Regions from separate parts of the Homo sapiens genome. Here regions 1 and 2 are each linked to region 3. Evidence: fine-mapped expression QTL. A gene starts in region 3. Each other region holds a variant in brackets. All regions are shown on one strand. Distances are between the middles of the regions.

Region 1 (2,810 bases), 82 kb after region 3:
AGGCTGGTCTTAAACTCCTGGGCTCAAGTGATAGGGTCACCTGGGCCTCCCAAAGTGTTGGGGTTACAAGAGTGAGCCACTGCACCCAATGTCTCATTCTATTTTTATTTATTTATTTTTTGAGACAGAGTCTCGCTCTGTTGCCCAGACCGGAGTGCAGTGGTCTTGGGTCACTGCAACCTCCACTTTCCAGGTTCATGTGATTCTTCCACCTCAGTTTCCTGACTAGCTGGGATTACAGGTGTGTGCTACCACACCCGGCTAATTTTTGTGTTTTTAGTAGAGATAGGGTTTTGCCATGTTGCCCGAGCTGGTCTCAAACTCCTGACTTCAGATGATCCACCTGCCTCCCAAAGGGTTGGGATTACTGGCGTGAGCCACCACGCCCGGCCACCTCATTCTGTTTTATGATTGCATCGTGGTCCATAGTATGGGCATCCCTGGGGTGTTTCCAAAATTGGGATATATTGACTCAGAAACCCTTCCTGTGGTTCTGTCCAAGCTCCTTGTTCATATGACCTGGCCTGGGGTGACTGGAGGAAGGATGTCCATTCGGAGATTAGGAGGGACTGCAGCTCTCGATTATGAATGGGATTGGCCTCCACAGGCCTGAGTGACAAGGACAAAGCAGAGCTGGTGAGCCCCATGCCAGGTGGCGGTCACTGGTGGAAGGCCATTTGTGACTTCTCTGCAGTTCTCCAGATGGACCACATTTAAAACAGAGGCACTGCCATTCATTTCTACTTGGTTGAGGAAAGGTTTCATCGCAGGCCCAGAGAGAGGATCAGATGTTTTTTGCAGTTTCTGGCAAGACATTAGTGGGTATCAGAGGGTAAGTGATCTCGTAAAGCTGACTCAAAGCAAGAGAAAATTTCGTGTCTGTCTTAGAAACACATTTGCCTCCAAAGGGAAGGCAGGGTGTGGAGGACTAATCAACGCATTTCACATTTGGTTTCTTTGTCTTTCTTGGTGATCTTACGTGACTAGCCCTGAATATTTTGCATATGTCAAGGAAACATTTCAAATTACTAAGATGAGAGGAAAATATGGGGAATGAATAAAATGGGGTTTATCAGCAAGAACAGCAAAAGACTTCTTAGAGCCGGCTGGGGATTGTTTTGTGAATCTCTAAACAAGAGGGGCAGTTTGACTTGGGGATGGGGGATGTTTTGACACTTGGAGGGATGGGAGGGAGCCAACAAAGATGTAAAGCAAAACTGGGATGGTGGTGATGGAGAAGCAGTGGGGGTTTCTATGGGAAGACATAGGAAATAATGGTCTGTCCTTCACAGAGTAGGTGAGGTCTACTAGAAGATACTTATCTTTTCCCTAAATTTCAGTCAACTTCACATGATTAAGTTTCCATTATTAAAGACTTGTTCTTTGTGTTACCTTTTTATTATTATTATTATTATTATTTTT[T/A]TTTTTTTGAAATAGAGTTTCACTCTGTCACCCAAGTTGGAGTGAATTGGCGTGATCTTGGCTCACTGCAACCTCCACCTCCTGGGCTCAAGAGATTCTCGTGCCTCAGCCACCCGAGTAGCTGGGACTACAGGCACACACCACCAGGCCTAACTAATATTTGTATTTTTAGTAGAGGTGGGGTCTTGCCATGTTGGCCAGGCTGGTCTCGAACTCCTGGGCTCAAGTAATCCACCCGCCTCGGCCTCCCAAAGTGCTGGGATTACAGGCATGAGGCACCATGCCAGGCCTTTTGTGTTACTTTTGTAAGAGATGAAATGAAACTAATATCTAATCAAATCTAAGCATCAAGCAATTAAAAATATTTTCTTAAATAACTATTGAGTTAAATAGGACTCAAAAGTACAATTGCAGAGAGGCTATAAATGAAAAAAAATAGAGTGCTATATAAAACAATGGATAAGATCAGCCAATGCTGTGCTTGCAGATAAGTTCATAGCTTTAATACTTTTATGATTAAGGATTGAGATGACTTGCTTTGAGCATAATCTGGCTATTCACTTATTCTAAGGAACTTGTCATGGCTCAAACATGTTTCTAGTATCCTCTTTAGAAATTCCGTTTAGATACAGTTTTCTTTATTAAACCTTCTAAGGTGACTATTTCAAAGATGAAACATTCATTTTGTTGTTTAAATTAACACGTATTTTTTAAAGGGTTATGTAAATGTGTTATCCATCAAGTATATCTTTGAGCCTTCATCACAGTGTGATGTAAGGGATATAAGTTGTTAAGGATCCAGCAGTAGAGAAAATTTCTGCACAAAAGTAACTATAGCTCTATTACTTTTGGAATATTCCCTAGGATACATCCAAAACCAAATCAAATTATACTACTTATAAAACACATTTGGAAAGATACTATGTGAATATGCTTTGAATACTGAGGCTTATGTTAGAACAGAGTCATGGACGAATTTGCAAAAAAAAAAAAACCTCCAAAATTTCCTGGAGTCTGACAAAAATACCGGATAGGGTTCCTGAATATATTTTCATGATCTTTGCTATATAACCAGATATCTCTATATTTTGAAATGGATCATATTTTATTAGTTTTTCTTAGTACACAAGCAACATGCTATCATTGCAGATGCCAGAAAGTAGGATCACATTGTTGTGCTATAGATCTCCAGAACTTCTTTATCTTGCAAAACTCAAAAACTCTATCATTTCTCAAACTCAAAACTCAACAATTCTCCATTCCCTCTTCCTCCACCCCATGGCCACCACCATTCTACTTTGTCTCTATGAATTTGAATACTATAGGTATCTCATATAAGTGGAATCATCCAGTATTTGTCATCTTAAGATTTCTTTCTTTGTGTAACG
Region 2 (2,810 bases), 91 kb after region 3:
TGGCCGTTTCCAAGGACAGAGAGCTTGCATCCCATTTCTAGGGGACTGGGGATCCAAGGACTCCATTCTTGACATTGTCTTGTCAGCCTTGAAGTGCCGAAACCCAGCATCCCTGTCTGAGGTCATCCTGTCTCTCTTCCAAACATGAGGACTTCTTAAATTTTTTAAAAAAAGTTTTTACTTGTATAAATTGAGAAGGCACAAGTGCAATTTTGTTACATGGATATGTTATTTAGTGGTAGAATCTGTGCTTTTGGTATGTCCATCACCCAGATAGGGTACCCTGTACTCATTAAGTGATTTCTTATCCTTCACTCCCCCACCCAACCCTTCCAAGAAGGATGACTATTACTCAACAGTCATTCAGTAGCCATTGGAGAATGACTATTATTCCATACTCTGTGTCTATGTGTATTATATAGTTCCCATTTATAACTAAGAATATGCATTATTTGACTTTCTCTTTCTGAGTTTTTTTTTTTTAAGATAATGGCTTTGGGTTCCATCCTGTTGCTGCAAAAGACATGATTTCAGACTGGGCATGGTGGCTCATGCCTGTCATATTAGCACACTGGGAGGCTGACGAAGGAAGATCACTTGAGCCCAGGAGTTTGAAACCAGCCTGAGCAACTTGGTGAGACTCCGGCTCTATAAAAATTAAATTAGCCAGGCATCGTGTTGTGTACCTGTGGTCCCAGTTTCTTGAGAGGCTGAGGCAGGAGGATCTCTTGAGCCCAGGAGTTCAAGGCTGCAGTGAGCTATGATCACACAACTGCCCCCCAGCCTGGGTGACAGAGTGAGACCCTGTTTTAGTCAGGACTTCAAGACCAGCCTTGCCAACATGGTGAAGCCCCATCTCTGCAAAAATACAAAAATTAGCTGGGCATGATGGCGGGTGCCTGTAGTCCCAGCTACTCAGGAGGCCGAGGTGGAAGAATCACTTGAACCCGGGAGGTGGAGGTTGCAGTGAGCCGAGATTGCCCCACTGCACTCCAGCCTGGGCGACAGAGTGAGACTGTTTCAAAAAAAATAAATAATAAATAAATAAATAAAAATAAAATCAAAGGTCTTACTCTTTTTTATGGCTGAGTAGTATTCTATTGTGTGTATGTATATATAGATATACATACATATACCACACACATACGTGTATATATGTATATATATGGTGGTATGTGTGTCTATATACACACAATGATATGTATATTAATATATATGTATATATAAATATATATACATTTTCTTTATCCAGTCATCCATTGATTGATGCTTAAGTTGATTCCATATCTTTGCTATTGTACTGTGATAAA[C/T]GTATGAGTGCAGGCATCTTTTATATAATAATTTCTTCTTTGGATAGCTGCCCAAAATTCAGGTAAAAGATCTCAGTCTACAAGGCAGCTCCCAAGCTTCAAAAAATTGTCCTGCCAGATTTTTAAAAGCAAGTTTTCTCAAAAGCTTCGATGTATACATTGGTCGATTTATTTATCCATTAAAGTATTTATTGAATACTTCTTACTGCGTATGGTGGTGGTGGTGCTGAGGTGTCTCACAGTGAACACAACAGGCGTAGCCTCTGCTATTACCAAAATTATTGTCTGGTAAAGAATGCAGATGGCTAACCAGGCAGGTGCCTGTACGGTGAGATATGTGCTGTGATGGCTGTAAGCGCATGGTGTGAGCGTAGAGTTGGGTGCTTAATTGAAGGCATCAGGAAGGCTTCCAGGACTAAATGATATCAAAGTCCCACCTTAAGGATGACAGGTTTAACTAAGTAAAGGAGGATGTGGAAAGAAGGGGGAGAGTGCTCCAGGCAGAGGAAATAGTATATACAAAAGCACAAGAGGATTGAAGAACCAAAATCACTTTGGCATGGCTGGAATGAAGGGCATGTTTGTGTATTTTCAGGGTAGGGGATGTGTTTAGGGACAAGCTCAGAGAAAAGGAAGTAAGGAACCCTGTCATAAAGGGCTCATCTGTCCTATGAAAGAGTGTGTACATTTTATTCTGAGAGTACAGAGCCTTTTCTTTTTTCTAAGCATTACATGATTAGATTTGTCTTTTAGAAACCACTCTGGCTGCCGTTAAAAATGAATTTCACAGTGACAAGGCTGGAGGAAGGATCTTGGGTTAGGAGGCGGTGGTAGTAATCTAGGCAGGACTTGAGGACGCCTGAGTGGTGGTGAGGAAGGAGAGAGGTGGATGGAAGATTCAAGAGATATTTAGGGGGTGTTATTGAGAGAACTTAGTGATTGATTTGGCGTGGGAGGAATGAGAAAGTCAGGGATGGCTCCCTGGTTTCTGGCTTGGGTACTAGGTGCGCTGGTGGTGCTTTTGACAGAGATAGAACCATGGGAGGAGGAACATGTTTTGAGGGAAGGCTGTCTCCCTTTTAGACACCTAGTTGGTGTCCAAATGGCACAGACCAGTTGGCGTGTGGATATCTTGGGGCTTAGGGCGTGGATCTGGGCTCAGGGTGGAGATCTGAGCCTTAGCTGCACATCAGTAGTCATTGCAGTCATGGAGTGTGCTGGGGTTTTGCCAAGAGCTCATGTAGATTCAGGCGAGAAGAGAGGAGGGGCCCAGGCTGGGAATACTGGCTTTGGAAATACTCTTGAAATATATAGAAATGAAAGAATGTATAGGGCTGTTTCCACAGACGTTTATTTTTTATTTTTATTTTTTTGAGATGGTGTTTCACTCTTGTTGCCCAGGCTGGAGTGCAATGGCATGATCTCAGCTCACTGCAACCTCCACCTCCCAGGTTCAAGCAATTCTCCTGCCTCAGCCTACTGAGTAGCTGGGATTATAGA
Region 3 (2,661 bases):
AGTGGGGGTAAGAAGTGCCGACCTTTAAGTCTTCATTCATTCACTTGTTCATCCATGCCCTCACTCAATCAACCAATATTTACTGGGGTCTTGGGAGGTGTCAGGCACTGAGCTTGGTGCTGGGCGACATGGTGGTGAACAGCCCCCCTGCTCTCACAGAGCCTAGGTCTGGTGAAGGAGCTCACAGCCTAATGAAGCTCTGCGTTCCCAGAGTGGGGGACATGGTGGCAGTGGGTATCTTTAGGCCTTGTGCATGAACAGGGCGCTAAATAACATTGAATTACACATTGTAGACAATTATTACCCTTTCAGTTACCTTCAGATCACATCAAGGAGAGAGTCCTGGTTGGATAGTAATGTCTTTAACACCCCTCTAGCATTTATTAATTTCCTCTCTTAACAAATAAAAGATGACTTCAGTCGAAGATGCTTAGGACAGATGACGGCACCTGGAGATATTTTAATAATGTAGATACCTCTTGCTGTTCAAACTCAGACCAAAAGAGATAGGCTTTTTTTCCCCCAGAGGGTGCACAAATACGACCAGAATTTGTGAAGACGAGTCAGAAATGAATGAAATTTGGAAAAATATTGATCTACTGAAATCCTTCCTCCCCACACTATTAGCCCTATGTTACAGTTGGGGAAACGGAGTCGTTTTGCAGAGGGGATGGACAGAAGGTAGGGAGTTCTCTTCCAAACGTGCAGGAGGCAAGCAAAGCCAAGAATCTTCTCTGTGGTGGAGTTAGAGACATATAAAATAAAGATCGCTCCTCCCCTACCTCTGCAGAACGTGTGTGTGTATGTGTGTGTAAGTGTGTGCGGCCACAAGCCTTTCCGAATGAGTGACAGCGGGAGCCCATCCCTCCAGGAGACGCGTGCAGAATGACCAATGGGATGGATGGGGGTGGATGGGTACCAGTCTCCGCAGAGGCCGGGGTGGAATTCGCTGCGCCCCACCCCTTCCACCCGCTCCCCTTCGCCCCGTAGGTCTTTCCACTCTCGCTCCTCCCCTGGGCACATCTCCTGAACGCAGCCCCGGGGGCCGAGGACGGGGTGGGGTGGGGGGCGAGGCTCGGGTCCGACGACCCCGGGCTGCGGTCCCGGCGCTGCAGAGCTGCGGCTGTGCACGCTTAGCCGCGAGGCCCGCGGTAGCCCGGGCGCCGATATGTAAAGCAGCTGGCAGCGCTGGGCGGGGCCTGGGCGCGATGCAAATGAGGAGGGCGGGGCTGGCCCGGGGCTCCGCCTCCCTCCCCCGCAGCTGGGGCCAGCGGTGCCAAGCGCAGCTGGACGAGCGGCAGCAGCTGGGCGAGTGACAGCCCCGGCTCCGCGCGCCGCGGCCGCCAGAGCCGGCGCAGGGGAAGCGCCCGCGGCCCCGGGTGCAGCAGCGGCCGCCGCCTCCCGCGCCTCCCCGGCCCGCAGCCCGCGGTCCCGCGGCCCCGGGGCCGGCACCTCTCGGGCTCCGGCTCCCCGCGCGCAAGATGGCTGACCCGGCTGCGGGGCCGCCGCCGAGCGAGGGCGAGGAGAGCACCGTGCGCTTCGCCCGCAAAGGCGCCCTCCGGCAGAAGAACGTGCATGAGGTCAAGAACCACAAATTCACCGCCCGCTTCTTCAAGCAGCCCACCTTCTGCAGCCACTGCACCGACTTCATCTGGTGAGCGCGCGCGCGCAGGGCACCTTCCCGGGCCCCCGAGGGCAGCGCCGCGCCAGGGACCCCCTCTCCGCGCCCTCTGCGCCCTCCGCGCCCTCCGCACCCTGGGACCCCGCGTCTCCGGACTCCCGGCTCCGGACCCTGCTGCCCGGGACTCCCGGATGGACAGTCCTGCCGTTGCCCTGTCCCCACCCTGGTCCCAGACGGGCCGCCGCGGGGCGCCTCCTGCCCTCTCCTGCTCTCAGGCGCCTCTAGAGCGCCCAGGGGCGGCGTCGCGGGAGCCTTTGCTCCACCTGACTAGGAGCGCGCGGGGTCTGTGCCTGCCCTGGAGGGCAGCGCCTCGGGTGCTCTCCGACCCGGGGTTCCCTATCTCTCCGCCTGCTTCCGGGCGCGAGGAGCCCTCGCCCCCCACCCCTTGTTTCCGGGGGGGGCGGCGCCCTGGGTGTCCTTCTCTATCTCCCTGCGGGCATGGGACATCCTTTCTCACTCCTCTGTGCCTCCGGGCAGCGCCCTGTGTTATCTCCCATTGCCCCTCCCCGAGGGCCTGGGTTCCCCTTTCCACTCCTCGGTCACATCACTGCGGGCCCCTTTCTTCCCCAGTCCCTCCAGTAGTGGGGCATCCTTTCCTCCTTCCCAGTCCCCCTCCCAGAGGACACCACCGCCGCGGGGTCACTCTCGCCCTCCCTCTGAATGCGTCTTTATCTCTTCTCTTTTCCCGAGGGTGCTCGGGGCATCTATGGGTACATCTGTCGCCTGCCTTCAGCCCCTACCCCGACGGAAACGCTCCCCACTATCCCGCCACCTGGTGGTCGCAGCCTCCTCTCTTCTGCAGGAGTGAAGGCAGATGGGGGTTACAGCCGAGCTCCCACCTACCCCCACAAAGGCGGAAGACTCTTGGGCACCCGCCTGTGGCTGGGAGTTTGCACCTGGGGTACAGAGGCAGGGAGGAAGGCGGGTGACTCTGTGGGTAACTAGCTGGAGGCTGGGCCCCCCGGGCTGCCTGACATACA

Evidence for each region. PIP is the estimated chance that this variant, and not a neighbour inherited with it, causes the effect.
Region 1: its variant is the best candidate, but not a certain one, in a credible set for the expression of PRKCB in monocytes after LPS (Kim-Hellmuth 2017, PIP 0.51).
Region 2: its variant is the best candidate, but not a certain one, in a credible set for the expression of PRKCB in whole blood (INTERVAL, PIP 0.75).

The regions. Positions count from the first base shown.
Region 1 is chr16:23,916,985-23,919,794 of GRCh38, forward strand. The region is part of intron 2 of PRKCB (protein kinase C beta); the gene reads left to right. Among named protein-coding and RNA genes, the nearest start is that of PRKCB, 82 kb to the left of the region's middle. The variant T/A (reference allele first, on the strand shown) is at 1,423.
Region 2 is chr16:23,925,460-23,928,269 of GRCh38, forward strand. All of the region lies in intron 2 of PRKCB (protein kinase C beta), which reads left to right. Among named protein-coding and RNA genes, the nearest start is that of PRKCB, 91 kb to the left of the region's middle. The variant C/T (reference allele first, on the strand shown) is at 1,311.
Region 3 is chr16:23,834,695-23,837,355 of GRCh38, forward strand. It overlaps PRKCB (protein kinase C beta), which reads left to right and starts at 1,289. Exons shown (of 17, transcript NM_002738.7): 1 at 1,289-1,654. The coding sequence starts at 1,482. RefSeq lists silencers at 785-1,424, 1,455-1,534, 1,865-1,944 and enhancers at 898-1,445, 1,446-1,991, 2,255-2,394.